Homo sapiens: one gene and its partner. The protein of the gene in region 1 interacts with the protein of each later gene in a biochemical or structural test. Each region holds a gene or a part of one and is shown on either strand. Other genes may lie near its edges.

Region 1 (3,600 bases):
AAGTTAGCAGGAAAAGTCAAAAGCAGACACATTTTTCTTACTGCTAACAAGCTCTGCAATCACAGCAGAAGATAATTCTTAAAAGTTTTATTAATTATGTACCACTAAAGAATGTTAAGAATGTTAGGAATAAGATAAAAAGCTTTTTGCAAAATTTGCAAAAGCAGAAACAGGAATAATACCCTAAATGGAATTATCAGCCTATACTAGTGGAAAAATCTCTTCTAGGAAAGGATAAACAGGTTAGTTGTAAAAATTGGCACATATGAAAAACAACAAAAAAATCATTCAAAGGCAGTCTGTATAAAATAAGCCTTGTCACTTTGTTGATGTTGACATTTTGCCTATATAACACAAAGGAACACATATGGTTAGTGTTACTCAGACTTAATTCCTATTACCTTTCTCAAAGATGTCAAGCATCATCCAATCCTTCCCTCTGACCCCATCCCCCAACAGGAGATGGACACCAAAGAGAAACTTAACTGGCATCTAGGCTGTTTCAACCAATCCATCCCACATTTTTATACAAAGGACCAGTCTCTAGCGGACTTAGCTTCATTTTCTCCGGACCCCTTAAATTTTAAAATATGAAAAACGAGGAACTTTCCCCTGTGATTTCATCAGCAAACAGGCCCCATCTCAAAGATGAGCCTCAGTCTGTTTTCTGGGTGCAGATCCCTAGTGATTAGGTCTCTATTCATCCAGGTCAGAAGAAAAAAAAAAAAGAAAGAAAGAAAAAGAAAAAACCCCAAGAGAGGAATAACCGAGCAAAGAGGGAAAAATATCAGTGGAAATGGGTTAAGAGGCAGTCGGGTGCCAGGCCTGGCCATGAGTACAGACCAAGGTAGCTAGGAAAGGGCAGAGCTCTAGGAAATAGGTGGGGAGAGCCACAGGGGCCACGGGATAGGAAGGAGAAGCCGGCCGGGGTCAGACAGGGCGGGCGGCCGGGCCCGGAGCTTCCACATGGCCCCTAGGCCCGACTCCCCCGCCCCCACCCCTGCTGAACACGCAGCGCCGCGCAACCTAACTTCCCTTCCCTCCCTCTTTCTCCCTCCCGCTGCACCGCCGCCCTCAGGCCGCGCAACGATTGGGCGGCAGGCAGCTCGGCGCGCCAAGCCATTGGCCAGTCGCGAGGCCCGGGGCGGGACACACCCACCGGCTTCCCGATGGCGGGGTTAGGTTGGACCGGGTTGGGGGGGGAGGGGGAGGGGGGAGGGGGACGGGATGGGGCGGGGTAGGTTCCCGAGGCCTGGGCCTCCGGGAGGGCGGGAAGGCCCCGCACGCAGGGGATGGGGACGCGGCGGGATGGGCGCGGCGGGGTAGCACGCACCAGGTTCTCCACGGCCGCACGCTCCAGGAACTTCTGCGCCGCTTCCAGCTCCAGCCGATCTAGGGGGAGGAAAGTGGGAGACGGAGCGGGGTCAGAGGGGCCGGGCCTCCCCTCCCCCACCCCAATCACCTCAGCCCTACCCCCGGCTCCTGCGTCCTACCGGGAGACACGGTCTTCTCGAGAATGGTGATCAGCTCCATGGCGGAGGTGGCGGCGGCGGCGACTCCTCCTAAGACGACGGCCCGGCCTTTCGGGCGGCGGCTCGAACTGGGGATGGGGGTTGGGGGTCGGGTGGGAAGGGAGGGTGGGGTGGGGGGCGGGGGTCACCACAAACCCATTCACCGGCTCTGTCTGGGTAGTCGGTCCGGCTCCCCTTCCTCTCCTCTTCCCTTACTTCCTCCCTCCAAATGGGCTGCTGGCGGCGGGGGAGGGACCCTGGGGGCAGCTCAGAGCGCGCTGGTGCTCGGGAGGCGGAGGGAGAAAGAAGGAAGGGAGGCTGTGAGTGAGAGGCGGCGCGCAGGGAGGGAGCGAGGGAGGGAGGAAGGCGGAGGGATATTCGGACCGGACCTCTCCGCGGAGGCGCCGCGCTCCACGACGATTGGCCGTTGTCCTGGCCACGCGGAATCCCTAACTGGCCAGGCGCTCAGCGTCGAAGGGCCGTCTCGCGCCCATTCGCCTGCTGGTTTCAAGGCCCGGGTTGGCTGGGCGGGCAGCGGAATGGAGCGCGCGGATTGGCCGAGGGGAGGGAGATTGGGATGGGGTAGGAGAGAGCCCGCCGTTGATTGGGTGGGCTTGGTAAAGGCCTTGAGCTCAGACCGGCTGAGCGCTGGGAGGAGGGTGGACCGGAGGCACGACTCGGATCCTGCGCGATTGGCTGGGATAGTAGGCGTTGATAGGATAGGGTGCCCGGGAGAACTAAGGAGAGGAGTTCGGGGTCGGGGCGCGGGAAGGCGGGAGGTGCCCGGCAACCCTAGGAGCCCGGCGCGGGGCACGATGGGACGCCCCCGGGAAGAGGCGGAGCTGGGTTCGAGCGCTGGGGCTGCGGTTGGGTAAGCGCCGTCGCTCCGAGGGGCGTGTTGCGCGAGGTTTTCGCGGGCCTGAGCGGGGGAGGGGGGACTGTTGAAGTCCTGCGCCGCGCCCACAGGAAGCTGCTTTAATGGCTAGGTCGGCTTGGTACCCTGCTTTCGGCTGGGAGGGATCCGTAAGGCCATGTGGCTCCACTGCCAATGTGTAGATGTGGAAACTGAAGCCCAGAGAGGGTATGGAACTTGTCCAAGGTCACACAGCTGGTTAATGGCTTGGTAAGGAATGGGTTCAGGAGCCCAGAGAGGGTCTGGAACTTGTCCAAGGTCACACAGCTGGTTAGTGGCTTGATAAGCTCAAGCTCTCCTGACGGCCCTTGTCCCTACAAGCAGCTTCCTCTCCAAGGAGTCCCCTAAGCCTGCTTATATGGGGCTTGAGACCTGTGCTGTGATAAATCTGACTTGCTTAGGGGTGAGCTAAGGGATTCCTCCTCTTAGACCCCCCATCCATAGCTACCAGGTACTTGACAGGATGGAAATGTTTCACCCTCCAAAAGTACCCTGTAAAGGCCCAACCTCGAACCAGAAAGAATGTGTGTACAGGAATAAAGGATTGTGGTTCTTAACCTGTTTCAGTTCTCAACCCCGGAAGAAACTCATGAATGCCTTTTCTTAGCAAAATGCATATAAAGAAAACGTGGGCCGGGCGCTGTGGCTCGCGCCTGTAATCCCAGCACTTTGGGAGGCCGAGGGGGGCGGATGACGAGTCAAGAGATCGAGACCATCCTGGCCAACATGGTGAAACCCCGTCTCTACTAAAATATAAAAAATTAGCCCGGTGTGGTGGCGCGTACCTGAAGTCCAAGCTATTCCTGAGGCTGAGGCAGGAGAATCGCTTGAACCCTGGACGCAGAGGTTGCAGTGAGCCGATATCGCGCCACTGCAGTCCAGCCTGGCGACAGAGCGAGACTCCATCTCAAAGAAAAGAAAAAAAATGTGCATACAGTATGTGGCTCAGGCCTGCAATCCCAGGACTTTGGGAGGATCGCTTGAGCCCAGGGGTTCAAGACTAACCTGGACAACTTAGCGAGATCCTGTCTCTTTTAAAAAAAATGAAGATTTTTAAAATGATAAAGGAAAAGTGTAATAATAGGGCCGGGCGCGGTGGCTCATGCCTGTAATCCCAGCACTTTGGGAGGCCGAGGCGGGCGGATCACTTGAGGTCAGGAGTTCAAGACCAGTCTG
Region 2 (3,823 bases), on another chromosome or scaffold:
GGAAACTGTTTTTTGGGGATTTAAAAACCACTGGAGTAAATGAGAGTTTGTGAGGACAGTGGGCCAAGATGGAACCCCAGGGAGCAATTTGGTTGGCAAGATGGAAGAGAACATACCTATAAAATGTAGAGATCAGTTAGGTAACTATGGAAGAGGTGGCGACAGTTGTAGGCCATCTAGAGAAGTAGGAATACCAGAATGAATGGCTTCACTGTCAGCACTATATTTTGGGCCTTACCAAGCCGTTCTTCCTGTGCCACCTCTCCCACAAACATGCTAGTTTTGCTTAAGATTTGTCACCTCTGTGTATCCTTTTCCTGCCTCTTAGTCATTTCTTCCTTCTTTGCACACTTGTTTTAGGTTGTCACTTGGTGATGGTGCCACTGTGCTTTTATTTTCCCCCTTTAAGACCATGAGCATCTTACAAGTTAAGCAACATTTTATTCATCTTTAATGTCCCCAGAACCCAAGTATATTATGATGCTTAATAAATGTCTGTTAAATGGCTAGCATGTAACAAATGTCAGGAATGTAGTAGGTGTCAAGTTAGATTGTGAAGTGGATGTGAAGTAGATGCACTTCTGTGCAAAAGCTATCATTCAGAGGCAGAGATCTATGCTTTCAAATCTTGAAATTCATATGGTCTGTGGCTGTGTATTTTATATGTTAGGATATTGCCTACAATTTACATCTTATGTCTTAGAATGCTTGCTGCTTTGAAGAAATTTGAAAAAGATTCTTAAGAAAAATTTAGTCTTTGAGCCCCTAATTTGCGAGCATGATTTTTTTTCTTAAACCACAGCAGTTCAAACATGTGGTTAAGGGGGAGCTCACCAGTGAGCAAGGTGATTATGAGCTGCTCATTTATAAGGTTAAAAGAAATCATTTATAAGGTTAAAAGAGAGGTCTATTCTTTTTTTTAAACAATGTAAATATGAACAGTTGTCTATTTCTGGCACATTCTGTGTTTTAATAGGAAATATTATTAGAAACTGAACACTTAAACTTAGCAGTGCCATTAAGATACTGACATACTGTAAATTAAAATTTTCATGAAATCTCCCCCCACTCCCCGTTTTTTTTTTTTTTTTTAGGAAGTTCAGTACCTGCTTCAAGTAGCAGCACTGTACCTGTCTCTCTGCCTTCTGGAGGCTCTCTAGGATTGGAAAAGTTCAAGAAACCCGAGGGAAGCTGGGACTGTGAATTGTGCCTAGTGCAGAATAAGGCAGACTCTACCAAATGTTTGGCATGTGAAAGTGCAAAGCCAGGCACAAAATCTGGGTTTAAAGGTAAGGCCAAAAAAATAAAAATAAAGGTGATGGTAAAGCGCCTTTTTGTAAGGCCATTTAAAAATGAAGTATTTGAGAACAGCTTCAGTGTTCACTCATTCTCTCTTGAAAATTAATATAAAATGAGATTATCCTGAGATGTTTTAGTTATATCTGTTTCTGAATATTGTAAGGTCATATTAGTTGCTTGTCAACAGTGAGGTATCTTTTCTCCAGGTGGGAAAAAAAATTTCTTGTGTCATTGAGCCTCAGAGAGTTTTTGTTTTTTGTTTTTAACTGCTAGCCCCCTAGGTGAACTGTTCTTTGTTTTTTTGTTTGTTTGTTTTTTTGTTTGTTTGTTTGTTTGTTTTTGAGACAGTTTTGTTCTTTTGCCCAGGCTGGAGTACGGGGGCGCGATCTCTGCTCACTGCAATCTCCGCCTCCCAGGTTCAAGCAATTCCCTGCCTCAGCCTCCCAAGTAGCTGGGATTACAGGTGTGAGCCACCGCGCCCAGATGAACTTACTGACTTTTATTTGACTGGGAATACACCTCTAAATTAAAAGCGATACAGGCTGTGGCTTTGGTTTCCCAAAGTAGGTCCCAGGAAAAGAACTCTTAATATTTTACTATATAAGTACAAAGGAAGACTCCCTCAAAGTAATTAATCCTAAACTAACTGGAGGCCAGATTTTTGTGTTTTTTTTGAGATGGTGTCTTGCTCTGTCGCCCAGGCCGGAGTGCAGTGGCCGATCTCTGCTCACTGCAAGCTCCGCCTCCTGGGTTCATGCCATTCTCCTGCTTCAGCCTCCCGAGTAGCTGGGACTACAGGAACCTGCCACCACGCCTAGCTAATTTTTTGTGTTTTTAGTAGAGACGGGGGTTTCACCATGTTAGCCAGGATGGTCTCAATCTCCTGACTTCGTGATCCACCCGCCTCGGCCTCCCAAAGTGCTGGGATTACAGGCGTGAGCCAACACGCCTGGTCTGGAGGCCAGATTTTTCAAGTCTTCTGTAAAAGAGTAAGCCCGCAAGGAGAAAATGTGTGAGGATTAATGTCTTGAAACAACTCAGACAGATATTTCATCTTCTTACTTATAAGTTGTAGCTAAATAAAGTGTACTCAGTGGACAGAGTGTAGACCCCTAGAACGGTGAGAGGATGGGATGGGGGGTAGATGATGAGAAATTAATTAATGGGCACAATGTACATTATTTGGGTGATGAATATACTAAAAGCCCAAACTTCACTGCCAGGCAACATATCCATGTAACAAAATTGCACTGGTAATCCTTAAATTTATACAAATTAAACAAAAATAATAGCAAGCTTTATCTACTTTGTAATTAGCTTTCAAACTCTTGATTGCAAACCAAAAGTCAGGAATAAACCTTTTATATTGTGAGCCATCACCTGCACAGCGTATATGTCTATATGATTGAAATCTGTTTTGCAAAATAATACTTGCCTCTGGTAGGTGTAAGGTTCCCTGGTATTTTCTGTTTTATTTTATTTTAAAAGAGAAGTGCTGGTTGCAGCCTGCTAAATTAATTGATGATTAATGGTATACAACTAGCAGTTTGAAAAACACTGCATTTAAGTGTTTTAGAAGTTTGTGCTTTCTGGTTCATTTTATCTCTTTCTGTAGCTGTTAATTCATGCTCCCCTTTTTATACTGTTCTCTACCTGTAGTGTGGTAATCACCATACTTTTAAGTATCTTAGTACTTCTTAATGATCCTTGTTTTGAGCCAGTAGGTCAAGTACTTCATTTCTGATTTCCTTAGCTGCAGAAAAGCATTATGAAACCAAGACTTTGATCTTGTCAGTATAATGCTTGCTCTCTTCTCTTTTCTCTTCTCTCCTCTCTCTTCTCTCCTGTCTTCTCTCTTCTCTCCTCTCCCCTCTCCCCTCTCCCCTCCCTTCTCCCCTCCCCTCTCCCCTCTTGTCTCCCCTCCCCTCTCGTCTCCCGTCTCCTCTGCTCTCCTCTGTTTTCTTTTCTTTATTTATTTTGAAGTGGAGTCTCACTGTTGACCGGGCTGGAGTGCTGTGGCGCAATCTTGGCTCACTGCAACTTCTACCTCCCGGGCTCAAGCAATTCTCCTGCCTCAGCCTCTCAAGCAGCTGAGACTACAGGCACAGACCACCATGCCTGGCTGATTTTTTTTGTATTTTTAGTAGAGATGGGGTTTCGCCATGTTGGCCAGGCTGGTCTTGAACTCCTGACCTCGGGTGATCTGCCCGCCTTGGCCTCCCAAAGTGCTGGGATTCCAAGCGTGAGCTACCACGCCCAGTCTGATGTTTAACTTTATAAACATTGCTTCAACTCTGTAATTCTTCTGTTTTTCTGTTGCCTTCCTTTTTTAAATGCTTGAGTGAATAACACATTTATTCACAAGATTTAAAAATCAAGAAATTGTGACAAGGTTCAATCTCTTCTCTCCATTGTCTCTTTTTCCACCTTCCCTCCCACTTCCAAATGTAACTGTGGTTAGTTTCTTGTAAATCTTTCAAAGTTTCTTTATGCCCATCCAAGGCAAACATACATACCCCTATAT

What was found. The genes of interacting proteins can lie anywhere in the genome.
Region 2: the proteins of KPNB1 (region 1) and NUP153 form a complex in vitro, tested with the Homo sapiens proteins (4 studies listed by BioGRID and IntAct, with this or other methods).

Annotation. Positions count from the first base shown.
Region 1 is NC_000017.11:47,648,178-47,651,777, reverse strand, and holds the start of KPNB1 (importin subunit beta-1), read right to left. Parts: upstream 1,860-3,600; 5' UTR 1,534-1,859; coding exon 1,494-1,533; intron 1,393-1,493; coding exon 1,334-1,392; intron 714-1,333; exon of another isoform or gene 402-713; intron 1-401.
Region 2 is NC_000006.12:17,630,116-17,633,938, reverse strand, and holds part of NUP153 (nuclear pore complex protein Nup153), read left to right. Parts: intron 1-1,094; coding exon 1,095-1,289; intron 1,290-3,823. UniProt on the Homo sapiens protein: Component of the nuclear pore complex (NPC), a complex required for the trafficking across the nuclear envelope. Functions as a scaffolding element in the nuclear phase of the NPC essential for normal nucleocytoplasmic transport of proteins and mRNAs.